2 separate regions of the Homo sapiens genome follow, and region 1 is linked to region 2. The links come from fine-mapping of genetic effects on gene expression. A gene starts in region 2. The other region holds a variant in brackets. All regions are shown on one strand. Distances are between the middles of the regions.

Region 1 (3,033 bases), 22 kb after region 2:
TTCTGTCTCTTTTTCAACAATTACTTAGACATATATTATAATTTCTTACAGGTCGTAGATGTATCCAAAGGAATTGTTAATGCAGTTAAGGATCCTGATGCCAATGGGAAATCCTTTGCTTTCGTTGGGTAAGTGCTTAGAGTTTGAATTTTAAATTGTGCTATTATAATGAAGGAATCAATATCTAAATTAGTTACTAACAGATTTATTTGTTGCACTTTTACAATATCAAAATCTCCTCATTGCTTGCATTAAATCAGAATTTGAGGGAACCTGGAATCTACTTTAATGAATGATTCTTCTGTTACCAAGGTCTGAGAACCACTGCCCTAGACTATTACATATACTTAGTCCAGTGACCCTTAGGGATGGTTTTGTACTACTCCAGTGATGTTTTTAATATATAAAAGGATATTGCTGTAAATTCTAAAACACAAACAAAACACTTTTAGGGAGTAAGTATGGTTATAAAACCACATTAATTTTGATGGAGTATCACAATGCCTCCAGAGGCTGAAAAACGGGTGGTTTATAGCACAATTACTAGTGCTGTGCGAGATTGATTATTTCTTTTATGCTCTTTGCTAAAATTTGCTTTCAGAAAAAAGGGGTACAGTTAAGCTATGTGGCTTACCTGAAATTACTAAATCATGTGACAGCTAAGCTTAGGAATTTTTTTGCTGAATTAACTAAAAGTCAAAAACTAAGACTTCATTTGCCAAGTTGAGAGGTATCAAATTCACCTGGTAAGTGGTTCATAACCCTGTGATTCTGTGAAGCAAACTAGTGACACTTGACATCTATGAAAGTTAAGGATCTGGCTCAGTAATTAAGGGATAGCCTAATTCATAAGAAATGTTTGCCTCTAGAGGAAAATGACACTGTTCTCTTTAAGCCAAGAGGCATAGAATATACTCCCAGAATTCTGAATCTATACATTGTTATGTTCCACTATTATTATTTAATACATAATTTTTTTCAGTGTGAAAGTCTTGGTTTTCCATGTCAACTAGCAGCTGCAAAATATATTTCTCCTTTTCAGTTCCCAGTTTGGTACATTAGCATGCAATCAGTTATATAGTCTAGATAAGAATTACAATTCAATATATTCAATACAGGTTTCATAAAATACTACACAAAAGACATTAGTTCCAGTGAAGAGGTACATGGACTAGGATTTCAGGGAATAAATGAGCGGAAATGGCTTTGTGAACTTTACTTGCTCTAGCTCTGGATGAGTTGCACATTTTCCTTTTTACCTTTGCCCAGCCATTATCCTTTTGTCTGGGCTCCAGTAAGTCATTCTTGTTTGGCGTAACGATGGGAAAAATAATACTAGACATTGCAGTGTAGATATTTTTCCTCTTGAAATTGTAGATAGGTATCTACACATTTCTCATCTCTTCAGCCCCAGGAAAAAACTTTGCTTCTTTCTCTGATATTTTGAGGCTAAGGCAGTGGCATAAGACTATAATTTTCCTCCTAGGTTTTTTGTAATTATGAATTATATTATGTTGGTCCATTCTATTTGCCATTCATTCATAAAATACCTATTGATACACACTCATACAACATTACACACAACTGTGATGATGAATAAACACATTCAGCAAAATCA[C/T]GATGTATAAGATCAGCATAGAAAAATCAATATATACTAGTAAATGAACAATGTGAAAATAAAATTAAGAAAAGAATTTTATTCACAGCAGCATAAAAAATAATAGAATATTTAAGTATAAATTTAACAATTAAATTTATTATATTATACCTAATAAGTAATGACATACCATGTTCATGGATTGAATGAGTCAGTATGATTAAAATGATAATTTCCTTCAAATTGATTGACAAATTCAACTTAATTCTATCGAAATTCCAACAGACTTTTTTGCAGAAGTTGATAAATTGATTCTAAATTTATATGGTAATGCAAAGACCCACAATAGACAAAACCATTAAGTTTCATAATTTCAAAACCTAATAGCTATAATTATCAAGATAGTATGGTACTGACATAAGAATTGACGTATAGATGAATTAACCAGAATTGATAGTTCAGAAATAAATCTTTATGGACAATTGATTTTTGAAAAAGGTGCTATGGCATTTCAAAGGGGAAAGGATAGTCTTTTCAACAAATGGTTTTGGGATATCCACATTAAAAAAAAGATGAACTTCGACTCCTACCTTGCTCTGTACATGAAAAAATTAAAATAATTCAGAGACTTCAGTGTAAGAGTTATAAAACAAGGATTGGTGGCAAGATGGCTGAATAGGAACAGCTGCAGTCTGCAGCTGCCAGCAAGATTGACACAGAAGGCGAGTGATTTCTGCATTTCCAACTGAGGTGCCTGGTTCATCTCATTGGGACTGGTTGGACGGTGGGTGCAGCCCAAGGAGGGTGAGCCAAAACAGGGTGGGGTGTCGCTTCACCCGGGAAGCATAAGGGGTCGGGGAACTCCCTCTCCTAGCCAAGGGAAGCCATTAGGGACTGTACCATGCACTCTGGCCCAGATACTGCGCTTTTCCCATGGTCTTTGCAATCCGCAGACCAGGAGATTCACTAAGGTGCCCATGCCACCAGGGCCCTGGTTTTCCAGCACCAAACTGGGCAGCCGTTTGGGCAGACACTGGGCTAGCCGCAGGAGTTTTTTTTCCATATCCCAGTGGCACCTGGAACGCCAGTGAGACAGAACCTTTCACTCCCCTGGAAAGTGGGCTGAAGCCAGGGAGCCAAGTGATCTGGCTCAGCGGGTCCCACCCCCACAGAGCCCAGCAAGCTAAGATCTACTGGCTTGAAATTCTCGCTCCTAGCTCAGCAGTCTGAGTTCAACCTGGGACGTATGAGCTTGGGAGGGAGGGGCGTCCACCATTGCTGAGATTTGAGTAGGTGGTTTTCCCCTCACAGTAAACAAAGCCACCAGGAAGTTCAAACTGGGCAGAGCCCACTGCAGCTCAGGAAGACACTGTGGCCAGACTGCCTCTCCAGATTCCCTCCTCTCTGGGCCAGGCATCTCTGAAAAAAAGGCAGTA
Region 2 (2,500 bases):
CAGTGTAGCGTTACTACTAAGCTTCTCCGATGAAATTCAAGGTTTTTTTCTCTCTTCCAATTCAATTTGTTAGGCGACACTTCAGTAAACAGTAGGGGCAAGATAGAGTGGAAACAGCCAAGATTTCAAGCCTAGTAATAAGCAACTTCTACATCCCTACTCATCACAGGCCTTTTTGTCTATCCCAGAAACACATACTTTTCCTGAAAAAACAAAGCACTGGAAGGATTACCAAGTCTAGAAAGAACCCGCCCTCCCCAAACTAGGTGGTTTTCTGATAAGCCTAAGGTATGTTTCACAGGATCACTGGTTGCCATCTCCTACCCAGCAATCTGGAGAGGTTGACCAGAATAAAGTATTTTAAAATCCAAGCGCTTAGTCTAACCTGGAATTTCCTCAGTTTCTAGATGGCTCTTTGTAGAACAATGCAGATTCTCAAAGGTGACCACAGTTAAAGAAAAAATTACAAGCCATTGCGCTAGAGAGAGCCATCTGCAGTTTCTCCTTAGACAGATGTTCAGATGGCACACATGGCCACTAAATTTGCATAATATTTCAGGAAGTTCACAGATTTCCCGAAGCCCACTCATGAATCACACTTCTGGTTAAGAACTCCTAGATTCATATGCTAGTTGGTGATAAGTGCTTTGGTATATAAACTTAAACCAAAAATTGGTGGAATAATTACCACCTTGGATAGGATGGTCAGAGAAGTTTTATCCGAAGAGGTCACTTTTGAGCAGAGACTTGAGCTGGTGCAGACACCTGAGTGTGCATTCCAGGAAACGCGAACAGCAGGCGCAAGGGTCCCTATGAGAGAATGTGCTTGGCGGGCTCGACGCACATTTATTTACTTGGGACACACCCTATTTTGGTTTCTCTTCTCCACTTTTCCCCTCGTTCTTGTCCCCCCTTTTCTCTCTCCTGGGCCCTGGATCTCCTGAGCGCGGAGGGCTACGCCTCCTTCTTCCTCCGGACTCACCAGGGCTGCCAGCTTAGCTTACATTTTCAGGGAACAGGAAACTGAGAGTCAGGAAAGGTGAGCTCTTCTACCTCGGGTCTTGCCATTTTGCATGTCCTGAGTCAGTCACTGGTTAACTCTGAACTTCAGGTTCCTCGGCAATTAGAGATTATAAATAGCCTATACAGCCTATTCCAGATCTGAGATTCCAACAGCCAAAGTCTTTTCACTTCCTTTCTTCCCCCTCTCCTTCACTTTCCCAGCTTTCTTCTTAACCAACAATCTACCCGAAACCGTCGTTTCTTGGTTAGCGCTTGCGCAGACAGGCGAGAAAGGTAAGTTTTGACCCAGCTTAGCAGCCGTAGTCAGCCGGGAGTGCTGTCGTGGGGGATTGTGGGAAAAGATGGCGGCTGCCGCACAATCCCGGGTTGTCCGGGTCCTGTCAATGTCACGTAAGTGTTACCGGGAACGGCGGCCCCTGGTCGGGATTCCGAGACGGGGATTTAAGGTTTTGGAAGTGGCACCGTGCTGCAGCGGTCACGCCAACTTCCTAGGCACACTCTGGTTTCTCTAGGTTTGGAGCTGCCTCAGTCTGGTTTCTCCTTTCGCTTTCCGCTTCCCCGGCTCACATATTCAATTGTGCACCACCTTGGGAGGGGACAAAAGATCTTAAGCAGCTGTAAGCGAAGAGGAGAATGCGGGGGACACGTTAGGGATCGAGAGAATCAGAATTCTGATATGGTTGTAAGGGTTTAGGGTTATGAGAAATATTTGTATGGGGCGGGGGGAGAAATGTGTAAGGGAGGGAAAAAAGGCTAGTGGCGAGAGGTTTTCTTAGATTGATTTTATGACCTTGTGCAAACCCTTAATGGGTCTCAATTCATATGAGCACAATGGAAATGATAATATTACAATACCAGGGAGTCTCTGATAAGATTAAATGAGCTAATATTTGTAAAAGCATCCTTTTACCCAAAAGCGTCTCTACGGATGTAGAATGTGTTCGGCAAAGTGCGTTGGGGTCTGGGGGAGAGAGTGATGTTTGAGGAGAGAAGAATCAGGAGCTTGGTGGAAAGGAAAGTGAAGAATGAAGGCTATGTTAGAATTTGTTAGCATTATTTAGTTTCTCTTCTGTTCTGATTGGATCTGCTCCCACTCCTCAAACTGAAAACATACATTTGTCCTTCCACTCACTAAAAAGCAAGGAAATTAGAAATACGGTTACACTTCATCATTGTCCTTTCACCCTCTACTCTTCCACAAACATATTCCAATCAAACCCCCAAAGTTGTATTTTTCTTAGTGTATTTTAGTCGTTACAGAATATCATTTGCTTTCAAAATTGGCTCATGTCAGAATCACTCGTAAAGCTTTATAAAAATTAGAAATGAGGACTGAGTGTAGAGCTATTGAGTCAGAATTTGTGAGATTAGCTCCTTGCACCTTAAATTTTTAAAAGCACCACAGATAGGCTTGATGTTCAGCCTGAGGCAAGAATTAGGAGTGTTTAGAGGATCCTTTTTTTTTTGTTTTCCATCT

Evidence for each region.
Region 1: its variant is fine-mapped to the expression of NDUFA9 in whole blood (TOPMed, PIP above 0.99).

Annotation. Positions count from the first base shown.
Region 1 is chr12:4,669,690-4,672,722 of GRCh38, forward strand. NDUFA9 (NADH:ubiquinone oxidoreductase subunit A9) reads left to right here. Exons shown (of 11, transcript NM_005002.5): 8 at 52-128. Among named protein-coding and RNA genes, the nearest start is that of NDUFA9, 22 kb to the left of the region's middle. The variant C/T (reference allele first, on the strand shown) is at 1,619.
Region 2 is chr12:4,647,763-4,650,262 of GRCh38, forward strand. NDUFA9 (NADH:ubiquinone oxidoreductase subunit A9) reads left to right here and starts at 1,352. Exons shown (of 11, transcript NM_005002.5): 1 at 1,352-1,413. The coding sequence starts at 1,365. It overlaps AKAP3 (A-kinase anchoring protein 3), which reads right to left and starts at 1,289. Exons shown (of 6, transcript NM_001278309.2): 1 at 983-1,289. RefSeq lists enhancers at 714-763, 1,044-1,253, 1,122-1,777.